Linked DNA regions of Homo sapiens: region 2 is linked to region 1. Evidence: fine-mapped expression QTL. A gene starts in region 1. The other region holds a variant in brackets. All regions are shown on one strand. Distances are between the middles of the regions.

Region 1 (4,390 bases):
CTCCAGGTACCTTCTGATGAAGGTAACACTTCAACTGATCTTCATAACCCAAACCCAGGATTGCCCTTAACAGCCTTAGCTGACAAAGCTCATTAGAAATCAAACTCTTCCTTTAACAAAACAAGACATTTTAAACCAACCAACCACTCAATGTCAGCACCCCGACCTTCTGCCTAGCCATTGTTTCTACATCCTCAGCAGAATCCTCTTTTCTTTTAGTGTGCTCTGAGAGAGTCAAAGGACGTTTTTGAAGTTCCCTTTAGTCCTTTCCCATCCTGAGCCCCAATCCCAATGTCCTCAAATCTTACTACTTGATTTGCCTAGTGGTCTCTCCACCTATGAATGGCTAGGGAAAATGATGCCTCTTCTTTTGCCCCCCGACCCCACCTACTCTCAAGGCTCATACTTCCTACAGTATATCTCTCACCATATTTCCCCACCACCAATATTCAGACTCATCAAGAGTGCAAAAACGAAATAATCTGCAGTCTTAAAGTCTCTGCTTCTCCTTTGTTCTACACTGTTTTAAAAAGTCTAGTCCCCAAAGCTTCTCTGCTCCTCTGTCTCCATTCTTTGCTTCTTTAGGACTCCCTGGGCTCTTGGCACATTCTCCAAGTCCACATTTCCACCTCAGATTTGGAGCTTTTCTTTCTACACCTAAAGACAGATCTCTAACTTATTCTTCATTCAGGATCTGAACTTACCTTCTCCCTAAAACCGTTTTTCCCTCTTTGACTTCCAAGGCCTACACCCTTTTTTCTTCCTAAGGACTTCCTTTCTCCTTCCTGTCAATGTGGCCCCTTGGTAGTGCAAGGAGATGCCTTCTTCCCATTCCACCTTTCACCACTACTCACTTGGCAAAGCGAGAGCGATTTCCAACCACACCGAATTCCTCTTCCTCTTCGGAGCTGGACTCAGAGTCTGAGTCGGGAGGCTCAGTGCGAAGCAGGCGGTGACTGCTTGGGCCTTTCTTGGGCTTCTTTCTCCGGCTGTCCCCAGCCAAACCAATCAATGCATTGAGCTCTTTGCGCTTTTTCATCTTTTTGTGTGGGGTGAGTGGAGCCCCGACTCCTGAGCTGCCAGGTTCGTACCCGATGCCCAATTCTCTTCCTGCCTTGGAGCTGCCTTCCAGGGTTGGGAATCCTGGGCCAGAGCCCCCTGGTCACTCCCACCTAGGGGTGGGACTGACCAGATCCGCCAGGGACTGGAGATTGGAGCCCAGAGGAAACTGGAACTCAGATGGGTGGGGGAAATCACATAGAAATGGCCAAGGAGCTGGTGACCCCAAAGGATAAGGCCTTGGGTGCAGAGTGTTAGTAGAGGGTGGAGAGGGACCTTTATCTCCCAAAGGGCGAAAAAAAAGCCAGGTCAAAAATGAAGGATTCTCAGCCCGGATAAGTAGGCAATACTTCTAAGGGTGCTCCAGGAGGTGAGGAAGGGCACGCTTAAAATACGTGTTTCGGACCTCCGGAGCAAGATTTCCAATGGAGAGGGAAGAGAAACTCGTTCTTGAATGGGAAGAGAGTGGGGAGGTGCAGAGTAAGAAAGTGGGAACGCGTCAGTCCCTTCCTTGCAGGAGAGGTGGCGGCAGGAGGGGGCTCCCAGCAGCTACAATCCCAACACTGCTTGGCCGCAGAGAAAATGCCCTGGCCAGGAAGCCGGCTGGGGTGTGTGATGATCACCGTTCTCCGGCCTCCGTCCTGAACGTGAAGGGGGCCCGAGGCCGAGGAAGATCCGGAGCCCGGCTAGAAGGGTCGGCCTGAGAGAAGCCAGTCCCGCGCCTGATAGACCCCCGCCCCGCTGTCTGGGCCTTGGGGACACGGTGCCGCGGGCGACGGCGGCTCGGCCGACCGAAAGCGCTCCCGCCCGGAGTTTGAGGTCTCCGGCACGGGCAACTCTCGGCCACTCACACGCGCAGGCCCCACTCCAGCCGCGACTCCGGCCCCTGCTCCGGCTTCGGCCGCGGCTGCTCCCGACACGTTGTTGTTGGCGTTGGTGGCGGCGGCTGCGGCGGCGGCGGCCGCGAGCTCCAGCCCCGGGCCATCGCTCCAGCCCCAGATCACTTCCCCTTTGGCAGCGGCCGCCTGCGCCGCCTGCCAGTAAGCCGCACTCCCATTGGTCGCCCGCTGGGGTGACGTCACGCCGGGGCGAAAGTCGTGGCGGAGAGGTGGGGCGTTAAAGGGGCCCTGCCCCGGCTGGGGCTGGGTCCCACCTGCCGATTAGGGTGGCCCCGCCCCCAGGAGGGCTTCCGGGACCTGCTGCGAACCTGAGCCGGGTGGAGTCCTGCATCCTGCGGAGCGCGGGCGGGGCAGGCAAAGCGCCCGGCTGCTCGACCTACTTCGAAAGTTCATCAGCCGCCCACGCCCCCTGGACTAACCAAGTCTGAAGGCTCCGCCTCTCTGACTCTCACACAGGCTGTTAAAAGTTTAGGCGCGTTTCAGATTAATTAACACATTCATTCAGTCAATAAATATTTATTGAGAGCTTACTTACTACGTGTCAGGAGCTGTTCTAGCGCTGGGGATACAGCCATGAACAAAATAACCAGGGTCCTTGTCTTCCTGTATAGTGTTGCCAGATTTAGCAAATAAAAATGTAGGACACCCAGTAAAGTTTGAATTTCAGAGAAACAGCAAACAATTTTTTAGCATTAAGACATCCCATGCAACATCTGGGACATCCTCACACTAAAAAATTATTCATTGTGTATGTGAAATGCAAGTTTAACTGAGCATCGTGTATCTTATCTGCCAATCTATTCCTGCAGTTTATTTATACTCTAGAGGGAGGAGAGCAACAATAGGCAAACATATTAAATGTCAGGAGGTGATAAGTGTTATGATGAAAATTGAAACACGGTCAGGTGATGGGGAGTGCCTCTGTGAAAAGGGAACATTTAGTCAGCTTATCGGAGGAGAGGTGAGGGAATGAGCTGTGCAGTGGCTGCAGGAAGGAGTGACCAGGAAGACCTGTTGTGGCTGGACCAGAAGAGCAAGGAGCAGAGTGATAGGAAATGAGGTCAGAGAAGCATCAGAGGCCAGGGCTTTAGGGCCTTATGGATCACTGAAAGGACTTTGGGAAAGCACTGGGGGCTTTAAGCTGAGAGGTAGCATACTCTGGCTTTTCCGTAAAAAAAAAAAAAAAAAAAAAAATTCACTCTGGGCCAGCGCGATGGCTCACGCCTGTAATCCCAGCATTTTGGGAGGCTGAGGTGGGCGGATCACAAGGTCAGGAGATGGAGACCATCCTGGCCAATATGGTGAAACCTTGTCTCTATTAAAAATACAAAAATTACCTGGGCGTGGTGGTGCGCGCTTGTAATCCCAGCTACTTGGGAGGCTGAGGCAAGAGAATGGCTTGAAACCGGGAGGCGGAGGTTGCAACAAGCCGAGATTGCACCACTGCACTTCAGTCTGGCAACAGAGCGAGACTCCGTCTCAAAAATAAATAAATAAATAAATAAATAAATAAATAAATAAATAAATAAATAAATAAAATAAAATAAAATAAAGGAAAAAATTACTCTGGCTACTTTGTAGAAAAAAGTGGGGGGAGAGTGAGGAACACAGGAGAGCAGTTTGTTACAGTCCAGCTAGAGATGATGCTGATAGATTAGAGAGGCAGTAGCAGAGATGGAGAGCATTCTGGATGTTTCTTGAAGACAGAGCTGACAATTTTTGCTGATAGATTAGATGAAAGGTGTGAAGAGAAGAGAGGGTTTGGCGGTGGAAACACTGGAAGCAAGGAATTGTTATTTATTGAGATGGGGTAGAGCAAGTTTGGGACAAGTTTGACAAGCCAATTCAATATTCAAATGGAGGCTGTTTGGTATACCCATTGAGAGTTCTCTGGGCACAGGTTGGGGCCTGAAATATCAATTGGGAAGTCATCAGATATAAATGGAATTTAAAGCAAAGTGCTTTGAGCTACTTGGAAGAAAGTCACTTAAAGTAATTTTTATGCCCATATTCTTACTGTGGCAATTACGCTGCTTTTGTCCAAGGATTCTCGCAAAGCCTGGGCCTGTATCTGATTTGTTTTTAAGTGTCTAGCCCAGAAGTGTACTCCTAAATAACGATGACCCAATAAATATGTGATGACTACATAAGTGGGCAGTGTTGCAAAGAGGTATGAGTGGACTTTTGGAATCAAAATCAAGAAACCTGGGACTCAATCATGTCTCTACTTCTTCCTGGCTCCATCAGCATGGAAGCCGTTTAGTTTCTCTGAGCTTCAGTTTTCTCCTCTGTAAAATGGGGATAAACACCTATTTCACAGGACAATGAGATGAATGTGAAAGTGTTTTTGAAGCCCCAAGTCATGGTGTATTGTCCCCTTTTGTTTCTAGAGCTTCATTGCCCAATACAGTAGCCAAACTGGCCACATATAA
Region 2 (4,390 bases), 120 kb before region 1:
GAATACATAATTATTGCTAGTTTTCAATCTGATGACTTCATTTTCTCTATGTTCACTGTTATTTTAATACCATGGCTCTAGCTATACAAGTCAAAGTTGCTTTGTCAACTTCCCTATGAAATAAATATGCATTTCCCCTTTTCTCGGTGGAAAAGCCCTGAAAATGCAGTTTAACTCTGAATTCTGAGCCAAAATTTCTAAAAAGGCTTTCTAACTGGAAGTTGGGTGTGTTTCACCATGACCTCAAACCACATGCCCCAAGTGGGACTTGTGCCCAACCCCCACCCACTGCCTCCTTCCTCTGACTTCTCTTCTTCCCTATCAGATCACGTCATCCTGCCAGTTATTCCTCAAAGGCAAGCACTTACCTTTTTCATCTTTGCATTACCAGCATCTAACATAGTATCTGGCAAAAATGGGCTCTAGTGAATCTGAATGAATTACTTAATACACGAAATATCTCTTTAACATCCAATAAAGATGTTAGCACATTGGACAGTCCTTCCTACTATGCTCTTTATTCCCAAACAAATCTGAAACCCAGTAAAACTGTTTCCAGGGCCTAAGGAAACTCAGGGTATGCTCTCTTTCTTCACTTCTACTACCACACTTCCAGGGACAGCCTTGAACACCATCCAACGACAGGATCTGGCTCCATTAGCCAGGCTGGAGTGCAGTGGCATGATCTTGGCTCACTGCAGCCTCCACCTGCCAGGCTCAAGTGATCCTCCCACCTCAGCCTCCCAAGTAGCTGAAACTACAGGCACGAGCCACCACGCCTAATTTTTGTATTTTTTGTAGACACAGGGTCTCACCATGTTGCCCAGGCTGGTATTGAGCTCCTGAGCTCACGTGATTTGCCTGTCTCAGCCTCCCAAAGTGCTGGGATTATGGGCGTGAGCCACCACGCCTGGCCTTGAGCTTCCATTCTGTCTTTAGTCTTGTCATAGGTTTAGACCCCCACCTGGTCCCTTCTTGTTACCTATGGTAGGAGTTGGCAATTTTTTTTCTGTAAAGTGCCAGATGGTAAATATTTTAAGCTTTGTGTGTCACATGATCTTTGTTATGACTCAATTTTGCATTTGTAGAGAGAAAGCAGTAGACAATATGTAAATCAATGATTGTAGCTATATGTCAATAAAACTTTATTTTTGGACACTGAAATTTAAATTTCATAGATTTTCATGTGTCATAAAATATTGATCTTTTCTTGATTTCTCCCCAACCACATAAAAATGTAAAAAGTACATTAGTTTGCATCCACACTAAAACAGGCAGTGAGTCAAATATGGCCTGTGGGCCATACTTTGCCAACCCTTGGCCTACAGTAGAAAAAAAACCCCTCAGAATTCCTTATGGGCTTTGTGTTATTTTGCCACGTGGAGCCACCTTAGGCTGGGGAAGTAGAAAGCACAGGGCTTTTGGGCATTAGGTCCTAGGTTCCAGTTCTGGCCCTACCATCTACCAGCCGGGTAGCCTTGGACATAAAATTCAAACTCTCTGAGCTTTACTACCATCATCTATAAAATGGGGCAATAACACCTAGATCACAGAGTTGTCATGGCAATTAAGTGAGCTAATGTATATAGAGCTCGTGGCACCAGTATCTGGCATACAGTAGGCACTCAATAGTAACTCTTATTCCAGCTTCTGACATGGCTTCTCCAGATCAACTGCAGCTCTGGAAAGCAACCCAGCCAATCTGTGAACCACAGTTGGCCGCAGGAGGGAATAAACTGACAGCAAATACAAAGGCAGAGAGAGAATGTGGAGGTTTTCAGATACATGTCACAGGATTCTAAGTGCCTGGTTAGCCCTAATTCCTTCTGGCACCATTTAAAATTCCTCTGGTCCCTTTTTCCTCCTCAAAAATTACTTCTGACTCTCACAGTTCTTAAAGATTCTTAGCATTCTTTACCAACTACCCAGATGGACCCTGGAGCCCTCTCCTCATTCCTGTACCTCCTGCTGGTATAGGGCTGGGGTGGGGAAGGGTGACCATGGCCAGACCAAACCTACACAGATCCATCGGCCTGCAGCTGGGTCTTAAGTAGGCTGGGCCTGGCGAGGCACCCAATTCTCTCTCAATTGTTCAT[G/A]AATTTCTTGCTGTACTGGGAATTAAATTTCTTCAGTGCTTAAGAACTAGACCTTCTACAGACGTTTTAGAGCAAAAAAAAAAAAAAAAATCACCATGTATACAAACAAAAGATCCATCACATTACTTTCAAGACAGAAAACATCAGTGAGGCACAGGTAAGGCTAAGGTTTATGGCATCTCTACCCTTGGTCCAAAAAGCCAGATCTCGACCTGTTACTTCCTTGCTCTAAAACTTCTAATGGGTGTCCACTGCCTCTGGAGTAACCAAGCTTCTGTGCTGTCACTCACGGCCTCCATCAACTTGTCCCAGACCAACCCTCTATGGGAGTCTTAACCTGCAGTCTCGTCAAAAGGGACTGTATTTCCACCTGATTGCTCTAACCAATTCCCAGCTTCCTACACTTGTGCATAATTAAATTACCTGTAACATTTTATTACGCATCTTCCCCTAGACTGTTAGCCAGGGACAGGGTAGAGACTATGTCTCCTTCATCTCTGGGACCCCTACACCTAGCAGAGGCTCTGGTATGGGGCAACCACTTCATAATTGTTAATGAATGGATGGAAACAGCTGAAGTTATTCTTCCCTTAAGCTGTTTTAGCTGGACTCTTATTAGAAGACCGAGTACAGTCTGGGTCACTGCCACAAAGCAGAAAAACCGAAGAGAAAGAAAAGAGGCATGACCAATGTGATCCAAGCAATGGAAAACAGGTTTTAAGAGTGAGGTTAAAGAGACCAAGGCTGTTTAGCCGGGAGAAGAGAAGATGAGGTTTAACTGGATTCTGGCTTTAAGTACAGAAAAGGTTCTCATGAGAAAATCTTGATCTCATCCTCCCTTTAAAATCAGAAGAAACTTTTCCATATTCATGGAAAATGGAACAAGAAGAAATGGCTTAAGTTAAGGCCTGAAGGGTTTAAGCTGGACAGAAAGAAGAACCAAATTAGGCACCACTTTTCCAGAGATACTGTTATTGTACTTTTGGCAAGTGAATTGGAGGAGTCTTGCTTGGCACTCTTGTTGAAGGCTGTGAAAAAAGTAATATATGTGCTGCTCTGTTCCTGTTTACTGTGGAGAGAGGTGAAAACACAAGTCAGGTAAGATTTTCTAACGAGCCACTGATTTTTATTGACCCATTTCCTACAGGCACTTTCTGCCATGTTATGCATTGCAACCATGTGCTGGAACAATCTAGTATCTCAAAGGTTCCTGACAGGGCAATGGAAAGAAAGAGAAGGTAACAATGCGGGGGAAGGGAAAATGGCCCTAATAAATATACTTTCTATAAAAACAGTACCAAACTGGGCATTCATATATTTATTAATATTATTACTATTAAAGCTCACATTCATTGAGCACCTACTGTGTGCCAGGCACTGTGCTGTTGTATCTCAATTCTCATAACAACCCCATGAGGTAAGTAATATTTGTATTCTCATTTTACAGATGAAGGAACAGAAACTCAGGAAGATTAAATAACTTGCCCAAGTCACACAGGTAGCAAGTGACAGAGCCAGGACTCAAACCCAGATAGCCTGACTCTAGAGTCCACATACCTAACTACTGTCTCTCTGTAAGGATGAGAGGCTGGAATATAAACTCTAGTCTCTCTGAATCCTGTTTATATTCTCAGTTCTTCCTCATACAGTCCCAAGCCAGGACATTAGCAAGAGTTGAGGCCTCAGAAGTGAACCAAAATACTCCTCTGATTATCAGCATCTATAAAATGGGGGCAATTACACCCACATCACAGAGTTGTCATGAGAATTAAGTGAGCTAATGTATATGGAGCTCATGGCATCAGTGCCTGGCATACAGTAGGCACCCAATAACTAGTAACTGTTATTCCCGCTTCTGATATGGCTTCCCCAGATCAGCTGTGGCTCTGGAAAGCAACCCAACGACTCTGTGAACCATAACTGGCTGCAGGAGGGAATAATCTGACAGCAAATACAAAGGAAAGAAACAGACTGAGGACTCTCAGATGATAATGAGCAGGTGCAGGACTTGAATGCCAGCCTCTGCACTCCAAGTTAGTGCTCTGTCCTACTTACAGACTCTTGTTGAATTTGAGGGTGAGAAAATGAAGAGACAGGATGTGCCAAACAGGCTGCCTCCCCCGACAGACCCTTTTGTAACGTCAATCTCCCATCAGAACCCATGCCTGAAATACCAGGGTCCTGCAGCTTCTGTAAACTGGTTCTAAGATTCTACTAGCTAAGGATGGCAATGCACTGATTTATGGCACTGTGGGTGCTGCCAAAATGATCACCTATTAAACCTATCAAGCAGA

The links. PIP is the estimated chance that this variant, and not a neighbour inherited with it, causes the effect.
Region 2: its variant is the best candidate, but not a certain one, in a credible set for the expression of EFCAB14 in whole blood (TOPMed, PIP 0.80).

The regions. Positions count from the first base shown.
Region 1 is chr1:46,717,049-46,721,438 of GRCh38, forward strand. It overlaps EFCAB14 (EF-hand calcium binding domain 14), which reads right to left and starts at 2,066. Exons shown (of 11, transcript NM_014774.3): 1 at 855-2,066. The coding sequence starts at 1,039. RefSeq lists silencers at 1,871-1,920, 2,241-2,290.
Region 2 is chr1:46,595,132-46,599,521 of GRCh38, forward strand. The region is part of intron 1 of MKNK1 (MAPK interacting serine/threonine kinase 1); the gene reads right to left. Among named protein-coding and RNA genes, the nearest start is that of MKNK1, 6.9 kb to the right of the region's middle. The variant G/A (reference allele first, on the strand shown) is at 2,097.